2 separate regions of the Homo sapiens genome follow, and region 2 is linked to region 1. The links come from fine-mapping of genetic effects on plasma protein levels. A gene starts in region 1. The other region holds a variant in brackets. All regions are shown on one strand. Distances are from middle to middle.

Region 1 (8,334 bases):
TCATTTAGCATAATGCCCTTGAGATGTATCTAATTTATTGTGTGTATCAATAGTTCATTCCTTTTTACTGCTGAGTCATATTCCATGGTACATGTACCATGGTTTGCTTAATGCATCACCCATTGAAGAACATTTGGATGGTTTCCAGGTTTTGAATATTATGAAGAAAACTGCTATTTTATTTCTGTACAGGTTTTTATGTGAACATATGTTTTCATTTCTCTGGGTTAAATGCCAAGGAGTGCAATTGCTGGGTTGTATGGTAAGCATACACAGTTAGACAGAAGGAATAAGTTACAGTGTTCAATAGCACAGCAGGATGACCATAGTTATCAATAATTTATTGTATATTTCAAAATGATTAGAAGATTTGGAATGTTCTCAACACAAAGACATGATAAATGCTTGAGGTAATGGATATCCCAATTACTCTGACTTGATTATCGAACATTGTATGAATGTATCAAAACCCCACAAATATGTACAACTATTATGTATCAGTAAAAAAAGGAATCTGACAAACTGTTTTACAGAGTGGCCATAACATTTATATTTTCACCATTAATGTATGCGTGTACCCAGTTTCTCTGCCTCCTTGCCGGCAGTTGGTATTTGCGCTATTTATTCTTTTAGCCATTCTGATGGATGTGCAGTGACATCTTGTCACTCCAGATCTCTGAAGTTCTGTCTGCAATTCTGTCCTCTCTGGTACTGTGCTCTGTGAACTCCAGTTGCCTTGGCTTCCTTGGACCCCCAGTTTTATCTCCTCAGCTCAGGAAGACTGGCGGACTCTGCCTGGGTCTCCCTCTCTGTGCCACAGCCTGAAAACTCTTTCTAGGAAATAAGCTGGGAGAATTGTAGGGTTCAGTTTTAACATCAATCTTTTCTACCCCTATCTCTTTACACCTATCTATCTGTCTGTCTATCTATCTACCTATCATTTATCCACCATCTATTTATTTATCATAAATTTTTCTTAACTACAAGCCAAGGGTTTTAGTATCAGAACTGCTATTAGTTATCTGTAGCATTTGGGACATTAACTTACTTGAGCCACTTCTTTGTTGGTGAAATGAGGGTCATCTTATATCAGCCTTCTCATAATTCCTTCTGAGAGATTCCAGGATACTGGTTGACTCTTCTAGAAGATACAGTGAGCAGTGTTGGTAGCTACGGTCCTTAGTATGTGCTATTTCTAAACAGGAAAATGATATTGATTGGGTGGGTAATGAGCATGTGTTGGTAATTGCTATGTAAGAGCAATAACAACAACAACTAATACATTTAGCCTTTTACATGCAGTGTCTTATATAATATTTACAACAGCCCTGTAAAGTAAGTGCTACTATTATCCAAATTTATTCATTTTTTATTTAAAAAATTTTTTTAGTATTATAAACCACTTTATGTCCAAGAACGATTCAAATTTAGAAGACGAGAAAACTGTAGCCTAGAAAAAGAAATAAAAATGAAAATTAAAAACCTGTCCAGTCTAAAGGTTATACTTACACAGACTTAGGTTCTTTCTTTGTATTTAATTAAAGGTTAATTTCAAATGATCTCTAGTAGTAACAAAACTCTTTAGTTATAAAGAAGCAGGTGATGCATGGTTGTTGAATACATTACCCCTGCTGACCTTAGACTGCTGCTGGGCTCAGCAGATAATTCTTGATTTTCTCTTCACATTGCAAATAGACCTCACCAGAATAAATGGGCAGAATAGACACCAAAGAGGGATAGCGCAAGCAAATGTGAGGGTGAAATGCAGTCAGTGCCTTGCAAAAGGAAGTGCTCAATACTGGTAGTCGGTGTCATTGCTCTTACTGCAAATTATAAACACCAGCACTGCAAAAGTCAGCCCAGTAGACTTTGTAAATCACAGAAGTGGCTCCTAGACCACCATTTGAAAAATTCTGCCTGAAGGACTAAGGAAAACATCTTCTTTTATTTTTATTTTATTTTTTTATACCACAGTTTAGGAAAACATCTTCTTAAAAGATCGTGTTTATGTCTACAGATGATTTTTATAGTGCCTTAACAGTCTCCAGAGTGGTTTTAAAAATATTATCTCAGAATGTCAATTTCAGCTAAAGAAGTGAACCTTAGGATCAACATTGTAACCCTCCTGGTTTTATTCACCCAGAGTATAGGGACTGATAATGATAATGCTGCTTTGGATAGTCTCCTATCTAGGGCTAAATGATCAGATTTGCAAAATCCAGATATTCTTATGGGAATGTGGTTATTGGCTAGGGGAATGGAAAGAGGGAGTAGAGAGTGGAAAACTGGATAAAGTTATAGGTAAAGATATGTGAAAACTCATGATTGTCTCAAATACTCTAAATCTTGTCATAATACACTTGTAAAGTAATAATCATGTTGGAGAGATGGCCAAATAAAGGCCAAAGATCTTGACACTGCAGAAATTATAGGAGAGGATTAAAGGAAGTACATGTGGCAGATATAAGAAAAGACTAAACTTGAGATTCATGCACAAGGTCAGGCTGCATAAACCACAGGATAGCGGGTGTAACTCAGGAGCAGAACAATTGATCCATGAAACAAAACTGTCTGCAGTTTCCCAGGCTGGAGAGATTTCCCGTCTTGGATGTCTGGATCTGTCTCAGTGCCCAGATAGCCTCACTTCAAAGTGTTTGTGGGAACAGAAAGAATTGGCTGAGTGTGTTTGTTCAGTGCTAGGCGGAGGAAGTGAAACGGGGAGTGGGTTTAGGAAGTAAGTGTGTGTTTAAGAGCACGTGGACCACCAGAAGATAACCATTTTTCTTCAGACTAGCAGCCAGGGCACTGCTCACGAAGAAGGAAACCCTGGGAGGGAAGAACTTGGGGAACGAGAGGACACAAGAATCTCTGCAGCTGCTTATGCATGTACGTAAGTCACAGAGGTGTTGGGTGCCTCAAGGAACAACATGGAAGTCCTCTCTCTTTTTTAAAATAAATAATTTTTTAATAAATTTTCGAGCACTTTGGGAGGCCGAGGCGGGCGGGTCACGAGGTCGGGAGATCGAGACCATTCTGGCTAACACGGTGAAACCCCGTCTCTACTAAAAAATACAAAAAATTAGCCGGGCGCGGTGGCGGGCGCCTGTAGTCCCAGCTACTTGGGAGGCTGAGGCAGGAGAATGGCGTGAACCTGGGAGGCGGAGCTTGCAGTGAGCCGAGATCGCGCCACCGCACTCCAGCCTGGGCGACAGAGAGAGACTCCGTCTCAAAAAAAAAAAAAAAAAAAGGAATCTGTCATTACAACCTTCTCTCACAAAGAACTCCAGGCGCAGACAGCATCACCACAGCATTCTACCAACCATTTACAGGGAAAGTAATGCACGTCCACAAAACTCTTCCAGAAAGACAAGGGAGCACTCACCAGCTCCTGAGGCCAACGTAGCCTCAGTCCCTAACCCAGCAAGGACAGCAGCGGAGAGGAGCTCACAGGCCAGCCCCCGCCACACGTACACACCACTGCGAGGCTCCAAAGCTCAAGCAGCGTGTATCCAGCGAATACAACAAGAATAATGAAAAAGCGTTATCTGATCAATTGCTAGAGGAGCAGAAGTAACTCTGGCAAACCTCACTGAATGTGAATCCTGAAAGTGCCTTGATCTGCGGTTCTACAAGTTATGGTGCTGGAGGTCTCAGCCAATGCTGTAGGGTAGGACAAAGAAAGAGCTCCAGTGCCAGACAAGAAAAAGTAAAACTCTGATTGATTCACCCATGAAACAGTGTCTGTGTTTAGAAACCCCAAAAGAATATATAGACAAATCATAAGGATGAAAAAGTGAGTTTGCTCCCTCTCCCTCTCCCTCTCCCTCTCCCTCTCCCTCTCCCTCTCCCTCTCCCTCTCCCTCTCCCTCCACGGTCTCCTTCCACGGTCTCCCTCTGATGCCGAGCCAAAGCTGGACGGTACTGCTGCCATCTCGGCTCACTGCAACCTCCCTGCCTGATTCTCCTGCCTCAGCCTGCCGAGGGCCTGCGATTGCAGGCGCGCGCCACCACGCCTGACTGGTTTTCGTACTTTTTTGGTGGAGACGGGGTTTCACTGTGTTGGCCGGGCTGGTCTCCAGCTCCTAACCGCGAGTGATCCGCCAGCCTTGGCCTCCCAAGGTGCCGGGATTGCAGACGGAGTCTGGTTCACTCAGTGCTCAATGGTGCCCAGGCTGGAGTGCAGTGGCGTGATCTCAGCTCGCTACAACCTCCATCTCCCAGCCGCCTGCCTTGGCCTCCCAAAGTGCCGAGATTGCAGCCTCTGCCTGGCCGCCACCCCGTCTGGGAAGTGAGGAGCGTCTCTGCCTGGCCGCCCATCGTCTGGGATACGAGGAGCCTCTCTGCCTGGCTGCCCAGTCTGGAAAGTGAGGAGCGTCTCTGCCCGGCCGCCATCCCATCTAGGAAGCGAGGAGCGCCTCTTCCCCGCCGCCATCCCATCTAGGAAGTGAGGAGCGTCTCTGCCCGGCCGCCCATCGTCTGAGATGTGGGGAGCACCTCTGCCCCGCCGCCCTGTCTGGGATGTGAGGAGCGCCTCTGCTGGGCCGCAACCCTGTCTGGGAGGTGAGGAGCGTCTCTGCCCGGCCGCCCCGTCTGAGAAGTGAGGAAACCCTCTGCCTGGCAACCGCCCCGTCTGAGAAGTGAGGAGCCCCTCCGTCCGGCAGCCACCCCGTCTGGGAAGTGAGGAGCGTCTCCGCCCGGCAGCCACCCCGTCCGGGAGGGAGGTGGGGGGGGGTCAGCCCCCCGCCCGGCCAGCCGCCCCGTCCGGGAGGTGAGGGGCTCCTCTGCCCGGCCGCCCCTACTGGGAAGTGAGGAGCCCATCTGCCCGGCCAGCCGCCCCGTCCGGGAGGGAGGTGGGGGGGGTCAGCCCCCCGCCCGGCCAGCCGCCCAGTCCGGGAGGTGAGGGGCGCCTCTGCCCGGCCGCCCCTACTGGGAAGTGAGGAGCCCCTCTGCCCGGCCAGCCGTCCCGTCCGGGAGGGGGGAGGGGGGGTCAGCCCCCTGCCCGGCCAGCCGCCCCGTCCGGGAGGGAGGTGGTGGGGGTCAGCCCCCCGCCCGGCCAGCCGCCCTATCCAGGAGGTGAGGGGCGCCTCTGCCCGGCCGCCCCTACTGGGAAGTGAGGAGCCCCTCTGCCCGGCCAGCCGCCCAGTCCGGGAGGGAGGTGGGGGGATCAGCCCCCCGCCTGGCCAGCCGCCCAGTCCAGGAGGGAGGTGGGGGGTCAGCCCCCCGCCCGGCCAGCCGCCCCGTCCGGGAGGGAGGTGGGGGGGTCAGCCCCCCGCCCGGCCAGCCGCCCCGTCCGGGAGGGAGGTGGGGGGGGTCAGCCCCCCGCCCGGCCAGCCGCCCCGTCCGGGAGGGAGGTGGGGGGATCAGCCCCCCGCCTGGCCAGCCGCCCCGTCCGGGAGGTGAGGGGCGCCTCTGCCCGGCCGCCCCTACTGGGAAGTGAGGAGCCCCTCTGCCTGGCCAGCCGCCCCGTCCGGGAGGGGGGAGGGGGGGTCAGCCCCCCGCCCGGCCAGCCGCCCCGTCCGGGAGGGAGGTGGTGGGGGTCAGCCCCCCGCCCGGCCAGCCGCCCTGTCCGGGAGGTGAGGGGCGCCTCTGCCCGGCCGCCCCTACTGGGAAGTGAGGAGCCCCTCTGCCCGGCCAGGACCCCGTCTGGGAGGTGTGCCCAGCGGCTCATTGGGGATGGGCCATGATGACAATGGCGGTTTTGTGGAATAGAAAGGCGGGAAGGGTGGGGAAAAAATTGAGAAATCGGATGGTTGCCGGGTCTGTGTGGATAGAAGTAGACATGGGAGACTTTTCATTTTGTTCTGTACTAAGAAAAATTCTTCTGCCTTGGGATCCTGTTGATCTGTGACCTTATCCCCAACCCTGTGCTCTCTGAAACATGTGCTGTGTCCACTCAGGGTTAAATGGATTAAGGGCGGTGCAAGATGTGCTTTGTTAAACAGATGCTTGAAGGCAGCATGCTCGTTAAGAGTCATCACCACTCCCTAATCTTAAGTACCCAGGGACACAAACACTGCGGAAGGCTGCAGGGTCCTCTGCCTAGGAAAACCAGAGACCTTTGTTCACTTGTTTATCTGCTGACCTTCCCTCCACTATTGTCCTATGACCCTGCCAAATCCCCCTCTGCGAGAAACACCCAAGAATGATCAATTAAAAAAATAAATAAATAAATAAATAAAATTTTCAACTTTACAAACAAATGTGATAATAATTCATGGAACTCATGAATATTCTTTATCCAGGTACATTATTTTTTTAAACTTCCCTTATTTATTTATTTATTTATTTATTTATTTATTTATTTAGAGATAGATTCTCACTCCGGTTGCCCAGGCTGGGGTGTAGCAGTTGGATCATGGCTCACTGCAGCCTCAACTTCCTGGGCTCCAACCATCCTCCCACCTCAGCCTGCCTGGTAGCTGGAACTGAAGACACACGCCACCAAGCCAGGCTAATTTTTTCATATTTTTTGTAGAGATGGGGTTTCACCATGTTGCCCAGGCTGGTCTCAAACTCCGGGACTCAAGTGATCCACCTGCCTCGGTCTCCCAAAGCACTGGAATTGCAGGCATGAGCCACTGCGCCCAGGCCCCCTATTTATTTTTTATCATTTTCTCTCTCTCTCTGTAAACACACACATGTATACATATCCATATATCTATATTCCGAAGCATTTGAGAGTATATTGCATATGTTGTGCTCTTTTCCTGCTTAATATTTCAGTGTGCATCTCCTAAGAAGAAGGATATTTTCTTAAACAATCAGGGTACAGTTTTACATTCAGTATATCAAATACATATATACAGTGATTCTCCCTACCCAAAGTTTCAGTTACCCATGGTCAACGACGGTCTGAAACTATTAAATGGCAAATTCCAGAAATAAACAATTCATAATTTAATGTTGCATGCTGTTCTGAGTAATGTGATGAAATCTCTCACCGTCTCACTCCATCCTGCCTGGGATGTGAACCATCCCTTTGTCCAGCGTGTCCATGTTGTAGACACCACCCACCCATTAGCTACTTAGTGGCCAATATCAGATGCACCGTCACAGTATCTCAGCGCCTGTGTTCACATAACCCTTATTTTACCTAGTAATAGCCGCAAAGTGCAAGAATGATGATGCTGGCAATTCAGACACGTCAAAAAGAACCCGTAAAGTGCTCCGTTTGAGTGAAAAGGTGAAAGTGTCTCAACTTAATAAGGAAAGGGGGGAAAAACATGCTGCAATTGGTAAAATCTACAGTAAGAAAGAATCTTTTATCTGCAAATTTTGAACAGTATATTGTTATAATTATTCTATTTTATTAGTTGTTGTTAATATATATTACTAATTTATAAATTAAACTTATGTAGATATGTATGTATAGGAAGAGAACAGTACATATAGGGCCTTAGACATTCACTGGGGTCTTGGAACATATTCCCTGTGGATAAGGGGGACTGCCATAATACTCTTATCTACTACAGAGATCATACTTTTATCAATTGCCTCAATAATGTTCTTCATAGCAATTTTTTTTTTTTCTGGCAGGGAATGTGTCTCTTTGTTAAGGGGATGAGACTGGCCTAGCAAGACAAAGATGCATGCTCAGCTCTCCTTAGGATCTTCTTTTTTTGAGACAGAATCTCACTCCGTCACACAGGCTGTAGTGCAGTGGCACCATCTTGGCCTTCTCACGGGTTCAAGCAATTCTCGTGTCTCAGCTTCCCCAGTGGCTGGGACTACTGGTGCGTGGCACCATGCCGGCTAATTTTTGTATTTTTAGTAGAGATGGGGTTTCACCATGTTGGCCAGGCTGATCTTGAACTCCTACCTCAGGTGATCCACCTGCCTTGGCCTCCCAAAGTGCTGGGATTATAGGCAGAAGCCACCAAGCCTGGCCTCCTTAGAATCTTTATGAGTAGGGGAACCCCCAGCAGGTCAATTGTTTGATTTTCTTTGGTTTCATTCTTATTCCATTTCTTCCCTGAGAGTATAAACCTAATCAGCAAGACTACTCAGATGTTAAGAGATCTTTAATAGTAGAAGGAATCTGGCTTAACAAGATGTAGCTTTAGCAGGGGCCTGAGATGTAAAGTTGGACATCTTCCCTCCAGCCTCAGCTTAGGAGTAAGAATGGACTGTGGTACTTTTTCTATTCCTTTTTATCTTTTGTGGGGAAGGTGGGTAACAAGAAGAGTAATAGATATTTGAATAAGCAAAAGCAAATTTGGGTTAAAAATAAAGAGATGGTCTTCTGTGGTAAATCTAGTCCTATATTGACAATAAGGCTTTCTACAAGAATTTCCCTAAAGGAGAGTGTGACACTGTACACGCTTGTCTTCTCAA
Region 2 (8,334 bases), 14 kb after region 1:
ATGTGGGTAGGGTGCTCTGAGCTTAGACTAGGACTGGTGTGGGCCCGGGTCCCATTTCTCCCCTTTGGAGCACTGTCTCCCCACTGCCATGTGTGGGGTCAACTAGGTGCTGCAAAAGAGTTCTGGGACTTGGTCAGGCGTGGTGGCTTATGCCTGTAATCCCAACACTTTGGGAGGCCGAGGCAGGTGGATCACCTGAGGTCAGAAGTTCGAGACCAGGCTGGCTAACATGGTGAAACCCTATCTCTACTAAAAATACAAAAAAAAAAAAAAAAAAAAAAAAAGCTGGGCATGGTGGCAGGCACATGTAATCCCAGCTACTTGGGAGGCTGAGGCAGGAGATTTGCTTGGACCTGGGAGAGGGAGGTTACAGTGAGCAGAGATTACAGGCATGAGCCACCGCTCCTAGCCCCAATGGGGCATTTCCTGTCAATGTTCTCTCTTGCCTCCAACTGGTGGGTGATAACATGCTTTCTTGGGTTGGTCTTAATCTGTGCAAGATGAAGGATAATCACTCCTTGCATGAACAGGATGCTTTTTTCACTCTGCCCACGGGTCTCTTGCTAGTAGCAATGTGTGGAAGGTAGGAATGTGGTTAGTTGTAAAAGAGGTCACGTTCTAGGAATGCAGTAATTACGGCTTAAAGAGTTCAAGAGAAAATATGATTGGAAGATATGTTTTATGTTTATACTACAAAACTCCAAATGGCAAATTCTACATGGCCTGAAAATTAATTATCATTCTCATTTTCTGGCATATTCTGGATAAGACTTGCATTTGTGATCATCACCAACAACATAAAGTAATAAAGTAACCTTTGAGAGAGTCATTGGAAGTTGGTATTTAGGCCATAAACTGGATAATTCCCTGTCATGAGTAACACTATAACTGACATTAAATGGCATTAGGAAACTACAGAGGCAAGAAGATACAAATTGTTTCAATTTAAATAGGTTTCGAAGAGCTGTAGCAGTGTGATACCCTTTTTTCTTGTGGTTGGAGACATGAAATATTCAAGAATGGTGCATTTGACAGTAAGGAGTGTGAAGAAATGATTCCTAGATCTAACAGGAAGAGATGATATCTGGACAGTCCGAAGAATCTCCATATACATTGATGGGACAATAAAGAAATATATAGTATCTCTTTCTTTTCTCATTATTCTAAAACTTCATTGACAAATCATGATACTTCACTTGGGCTCATAAATTTTGTAATATATTTAAACATGAAACTGTTTATATAGATAGGGCCCTCTTCCTCACCCTTACCCCCCAAAAAATTTAGCCAGGGCCACACACAGTAGAGGCAGCTCTGGTTGTGGCTGTATCCAAGGTAATGTCTCATGTGTTATGTCCTTATTAGGCTCTCGACAAGAAGTCATCTCCTCGCCTTCCTCAAGTGCTCAGTCTACCAAGCAGGGTAGCCTCAGTTGGTTCTTTTCAAGCCTCTCTTTCCCATGAAATGAAGTTACGTTATCCAGCAGAGATTCATTGCTGGTGGGGTCAAAAGGAACTCCAGGGCACAGAGTTTCTGTCATTTTCAGCAATGCTTTGATTTAGCGTGGAATTTGTTGATGTTCCTGCCTCCATTTCCTGTATCCTACGCAGAGACCTGCCTTTCTCTCCTCTTCACATTTTTGCAATGGGCTCCAGTTTGTTTTCAGAAAGTGATTCACATCCCAGAGACGTCACTTCCAGGAGCAGCTGGGCTGATTCTTTATAAGAATTATGATTCAGAAACCCAGTTAAGTTTGGATTTAGGGGAAAGGTAAGGGGAAGAGGAAAATGGTAATATTAAGGCCAAGCAACAGAGGCAATGAGGGAAATGTGAGTCTCATGTTGAGACATAATAGTCCATTACCTATGGAAATAGGATTTCAGGAGGTACTGGGATGCCCCAGTGTTTGAAAATGTCAGCTCTCCAGCACTAGCATGAGGTTAGTGTTTGGAATTATATCCTTATAAACTTATTGCATATCCCTATACACAAGTATATAAAATTATTAACTTCAAAAAATGGGATCTTCGGCACATTTATAAGGTGACAACAAGAAAAGAAAAAAGCAAAATAGGCCTTATTCTATGAATGCTTTTGCATGCGTTTGGCACTGTGCTACCTACTTACTGGGTATACAGTCATTAAAACAAAACAAAACAAAACAAAAGAAACAGGCTTTGCAACATATCCACAAATGAGATCCAGAGGGGATAATTGTGATAGGAAGAAGGAAGGTGATGTGATTAGAGCCAGCCCTGGGCACTGCTCTGGAAAGCTGGTCTTGCTAAGGACCAAACATACAGCAAGCAACTGTATTAGAAGACTGGGGTTAAAATAATATATTTGTAAGGTTGAGAACAGTTGATACATATAGACCTCCCTTACCAGGGAGGTGCAGCCATCCCACAGCTGCTGAGTATTCTCTGTCAAGAATTCACAGGTGCACTCTTCTCCAGAGCATAGCCTCCAGCCTATGGGGGCCGCCTTGTTGACAATGTCTAAGAGGTTATGTCCTTCCCCAGGGGTAGCCCATAGCCAATGACTGGCTGATATGGATGTGTAAGAACTTAGACCTCTTGCCTCAATCTTATGGCATCAGTCATGTTTTAGAGCTCCCCATGGGGTCAGGTTTGAGACTAGCTTTTAGCTAAAATCACTTCTTTTTTTAGCTTCTTACATACAGGTTTCTCCTAAGAGCACTCCCTCAATAAATCACTAACTCAAGAACATGTTCTTTTTTTTTTTTTTTTTTTTTTTGAGATGGAGTCTTGCTCTGTTGCCCAGGCTGGAGTGCAGTGGCGCGATCTCGGCTCACTGCAAGCTCCGCCTCCCGGGTGCACACCATTCTCCTGCCTCAGCCTCCTGAGTAGCTGGGACTACAGGCGCCCGCCACCATGCGCGGCTAATTTTTTGTACTTTTAGTAGAGACGGGGTTTCACTGTGTTAGCCAGGATGGTCTCGATCTCCTGACCTTGCGATCCGCCCGCCTCGGCCTCCCAAAGTGCTGGGATTACAGGCGTGAGCCACCGTGCCCAGCCCCTCAAGAACATATTCTAAGGAAGGAATAGGGAATTCATTTTTCTTGAAGCCCTCCAAGAGCTGAAGGTCAGGGGCCCAAGCTGGAGATCACTTCAGGCAGGTGGGCAGGGTAGACTCTAGAATGTCAGTGAAGCATAATGGTTAAGCACATGGAATCTGGAACTTCAATTGAAAATTCCAGAACTTTCATTGAAATTGTACTTCTAACATTTACTAGCTTATCTTAGGTAAGTAACTTCGATTGAAAGTTCCAGAACTGCGTTAAAATTGTAGTTCTAACATTTACTAGCTTATCTTAGGTAAGTAGCCTCTCTGGTTATACCCAGTAGAACTAACACAATGCCTTGTGCATTGTAGGTGTTCAATGTGTATATATCTAGTTGAACTCACTTATTTTTATTTTTATTTTTTGCATAGCCTATTCTCATACATTGACTAATATGCCTTTTTTTTTTTTTTTTTTTTTTGAGATAGTCTCGCTTTGTTGCCCAGGCTGGAGTGCAGTGGCTCGATCTCGGCTCATTGCAACCTCTGCCTCCCAGGTTCAAGTGATTCTCATGCCTCAGCCTCCTGAGTAGCTGGGATTACAGGCACCTCCCACCACGTCAGGCTAATTTTTGCATTTTCAATTGAGACAGGGTTTCACCATGTTGGCCAAACTGTCCTCGAACTCCTGACCTCAGGTGATCTGCCTGCCTCAGCCTCCCAAAATGCTGGGATTACAGTGTCACTGTGCCCGGCCATGACTTGATCTTCCCTGGTCCAATATTCTGGCCCCTGAATCAGTGATGTTTCCATTACACTAGGTTTCCAACTTTATTTTTCTAAATTTAAATGTAAAAAATGTTTTAGGCTGGGCATGGTGGCTCATGCCTTTAATCCCAGCACTTTGGAAGGCCAAGGCAGGAGGATCACCTGAGGTCAGGAGTTCAAGACCAGCCTGGCCAACATGGTGAAACCCCGTCTCTACAAAAAATACAAGAAAATTAACCAGGCGTGGTGGCACATGCCTGTAGTCCCAGCTACTTGGGAGGCTAAGGCAGGAGAATTGCTTGAACCCCGGAGGCGGAGGCTGCAGTGAGCCGAGATCGCACCACTGCATTCCAGCCTAGGTGACAATAGCAAAACTCAGTCTCAAGAAAACAAAAATATTTTTAGAGATGGGGGGCTTTCTATATTGCCTAGACTGGCCTTAAACTCCTGGCCTCAAGTAATCCTGTTGCCTTGGCCTCCCAAAGTGCTGGGATTATAAGGGTGAGCCACTGCACCTGACCTTTCTTGATCTGTGGTTAGTTGGCCATCTGTCATCAATATCTGAGACTATAGAAGCTCTTGATAAGAGCTTCATGTGTTTTAGCTATTATGGTAGCCTTAAAATGTGTCCACACAGTCACTAATGCTCTTCCCTCCAAAAGGTGAGCTTAATCTCTCTCTCCTTGAGTGTGACTGAATTCAGTGAGAGAATCTGCTAGAAATGGATTCACTTCCAGCGAACAGAATGTGATCAAAGTGATGGCATGCCTCTTCTGAAATAGGTCCAAAAAAGGATTTGGCTTCCTCCTTGCTCTTGAGCTCACATCACTCGCTCTGGGGGTAAGCTAGGTGCCATATCATATGAACACTCAAGCAGCACAATGGAGAGACCCATGTGGGAATTGAGGTCTCCTGCCAACACCAGGAAGGAATTAAGACCTCCTCCCAAAGGCCGTGTGGGTGAGCCATCTTGCAAGCAGCTCCTCCAACCCCAGTCAAACCTTCAGATGACTGCAGCCCTAGCTGACATTTTTACTGCAAGCTTATGAGAGACCCTGAACCAGAACCTATCAGTTAACCTTCTTCTAAATTCTTGACCTTTAGAAACTGCAACATGGTAA[A/T]TATTTGTTGCTTTAACTGCTAAGTTTTACAGTAATTTGTTTCACAGCAATAGATAATATAGTTATGAAATGCAAGACTTTCTGGTCTGGAATGGCTCATTATAGTGTTTTTTCCATCTCTCCACTCATATCATTTTTTCTTTATCTAGTAACTAAAGAATTATTTTACTTCCTCTCCCCTTCCCCACTCCCAGGCTAATAATTGACCTACCAACTTAGTTAAAAAACATAGAATGTTTATCATTTTTAGTACATTTATAAGCTTATGAAATGTATTTTCTTATCCAGTTATCTCCAGAAATATTAAAGATTACTGTTTATTCTGATTATTTTAAGTTCCTCACATAGAAAAAAGATACTATTTAACATTGTCATGGGTTAGGGTACCAGGCAGGTAAGAATATACGCCGATACACACACTTTCTAGAGGGCAATTTGATAATATGCAGCAAAAGTGCCTAATATTTTTTTTTAAATCTTTGACCCCAGGATTTTACTTTTCATAATTTATCCTAAGGAATCAATTTGGCAAATGCATAAAGTTGTATGAATAAAAATGTTCATCATAGCATGATTTATAATGGTAAAAGTAAAAAAATTCTAAGTGTCCAACATCAGGGATTATTTAAATAAATAGTAGTTTAACAATGAAATAGTATTCAGTCCCTAAAGGGATAGTAAAGGCCTAAATTTATTGACGTGAAAGAATGTAGATGAATTCAGTGAAAAAAATTTATGGTGTGTTTATTATTATTTCATTTTGTGAAAACACATGCCTACCTTTGTAAATAACATTTTATATATATATGTTTTCTAATATATATTTAACTTTCTTATACATGCATATATATATATATGCGTGTAAAAAATCCTGGAAGGATAGATATCAAAATGTCATCAGTGGTTAACTTTCAGTGATGAGATTTAGGGCAATTTTAATTGATTCATTATTTTCAAATTTATTTGTATTTTCTAATATTTTTCCTAGTGATTTAATGAATAAAAATAGCAATACCATTCATTGTAAAAAAAATTAGGAAAATACAGACGAAAAAGGAGAAAATCATGGTCAAATGTAGTCACACTATTTAAGATTAATCACCCTTAATATTTAGGTGCATATACTTTTAGATTTTTATGTGCAAATATACATACGAACATGTATATGTTAAAAAACTTGGAATCAAATATTATTTACAGGGTTGCCTTATAATTTTGAACTGTAATTTTAAATGTTTGAAGTAACATCAATCTCAGAAAAATTGCAAGTACAACACAAATAACTCTTTTTTTTTTTCCAGAACCATTTGAGAGTAAGTTAATGAATGCGCCTCCATTCCTGAATACTTTGGTGTGCCTTTCTTGTAACAAGGATATTCTCATATACAGCTATCAAAATCAGGACATTAACGTTAACATTCACATTATGCTACCATCTAACTCAGACTCTACTCAAATTTTACCATTTGTCTCAATAATGTTCTTTAGAGCAAAAAGATCCAATCAGAATCATGTGTTTCATTTAGTAGTCATGTCTCTTTATTCTCATTTGTTGTAATACAATTCCGCAGGCTTTCTTAGACTTTGACTCTTTTGAAGATTCCAGTCCAGTTATTTTGTAGAATGTTTCTCCATGTGGGTTTGTCCTGATTAGATTTAGATTCTCCATCTTTGGCAGAGATGTCACAAAAATGGTGCATGTTCTTCCCACTGCATCCTCTAAGTTTCAATTCAATTTCAATTTAAACCATTATTGATGATGTTTACTTTGTTCACCTGATTAAAATGAAATCTGCCAGCCTTCTCTACTGAAGTTATTATTTTTTTCTTTGTAACTACTAAGTATTTTGTAGTGGATGCATTTTTAAACTATGTAAGTATTTCAGCTGGGTCCGGTTGGCTCAGGCCTGTAATCCCAGCACTTTGGGAGGCTGGGGGGTTGGTGGAGGGTGAAGATCACCTGAGATCAGGAGTTCGAGACCAGCCTGGCCAACATGGCAAAACCTCATCTCTACTAAAATTATAAATATTAGCTGGGTGTGATGGCAGTTGCCTGTAGTTGCAGTTACTCAAGATGCTAAGGCAGGAGAATCACTTGAACTTGGGAGGCTGAGGTTGCTGTAAGGTGAGATTGCCTCACTGCATTCCAAGCTGGTTGACAGAGCAAGACTCCATCTCAAAAAGAAGAAGGAGAAGGAGGAGGAGGGAGGAGGGAGGAGGGAGGAGGGAGGAGAAGGGGAAGTGGAAGGGGAAGGGGAAGAGGAAAGAGAAGGAGAAGGAGAAGAAGAAGAAGAAGAAGAAGAATAAGAAGAAGAAGAAGAAGAAGAAGAAAACTGTGTAGGTATTTAAATCCTTATATTTTAAATGCATTCATTTATTTATATCAGTATGGATTCATGGTTTCTTGTTTTATTCAATGAGTTATAAGTTGTCCCAGATTAGCCAGTGGAAGCTATTTTAATAGGGCTTCTGTGTGTTTTTGATGTATCCCTATTCTTTCTCCTCCTCCTCCTCCTCCTCTTCTTCTTCTTCTTCTTCTTCCTCTTCTTCTTCCTCTTCCTCCTCTTTTTCTTCTTCTTTCTCTCTTCTTCTTCTTTTCTTTGCTCTGTTGTCCAAGCTGGAGTGCAGGGGTGTGATCATGGCTCACTGCTTTCAAACTCCTGGGCTCAAGCAATGCTCCTACCTCAACCTCCTGAGTAGCTGAGACTACAGGTGTGCATGACCATGCCCAGCTAATGTTTGTTCTTTTCTTTCTTTCTTTCTTTCTTTCTTTCTTTCTTTCTTTCTTTCTTTCTTTCTTTCTTTCTTTCTTTCTTCCTTCCTTCCTTTCTTTCTTTCTCTTTCTTTCTTCTTTCTTTCTTTTTCATTTTTTGTAGAGATAGTGTCTCACTATGTTGCACAGGCCGGTCTCTGAACTCCTGGGCTCAAGGGGTCCTCCTGCCTCGGCCTCCCAAAGTTCTGAGATTACAGGCATGAGCCACCATGCCCAGCCTCCCCATCATTATTTAGGCAGTTCCTTGCTTTTAGAAACTACAAGATGGTCCAAGCTCATTTTATATTTTCCTTCCCCTGGAACCAGTCATTTTTCTAAGATGACCTGGTTGTGTTTAGTGACGAACAGTATTTTGAAACCTGGATCTGGGTGCTAGGTAGGTGCTCATTGCTGTTGGGGTGAGAGAGCTCTAAGGCTGTCTCAGTGGACATAGGTGGGAATATGGCAAATAGCCAATCACACTCACACTCACATGTATTTGCATGTATTTTCTCTTTTTTCTTTCTTTCGTTTTTTTAATTTTTGCTTACAAACCTTTTTTATTTCTCTTATTTTTGAGAAAATCTGATCCTACTGAACTTTGCATGAAGATTTCAAATCTATATGCAAATACGCATAGGCATTATTGTTTTGCATATGGAAAAATGA

Direction of the effects. Positions count from the first base shown, and alleles are read on the strand shown. Strength reflects both the effect of a copy and how common the allele is.
For the plasma level of the protein whose gene starts at base 4,078 in region 1, T is the high allele of the variant in region 2 and A is the other (weak association).

What was found. A credible set is the group of variants that fine-mapping cannot tell apart. PIP is the chance, under the fine-mapping model, that this variant and not a neighbour inherited with it causes the effect. The UK Biobank Pharma Proteomics Project read protein levels with antibody pairs (Olink). The fine-mapping took linkage between variants from a reference panel, not from the people measured, so its PIPs are less certain.
Region 2: its variant is the best candidate, but not a certain one, in a credible set for the plasma level of the RNASE10 protein (UK Biobank, PIP 0.76).

Annotation. Positions count from the first base shown.
Region 1 is chr14:20,501,460-20,509,793 of GRCh38, forward strand. RNASE10 (ribonuclease A family member 10 (inactive)) reads left to right here and starts at 4,078. Exons shown (of 2, transcript NM_001386206.3): 1 at 4,078-4,560.
Region 2 is chr14:20,515,472-20,523,805 of GRCh38, forward strand. No RefSeq gene overlaps it. Among named protein-coding and RNA genes, the nearest start is that of RNASE10, 14 kb to the left of the region's middle. The variant A/T (reference allele first, on the strand shown) is at 4,914.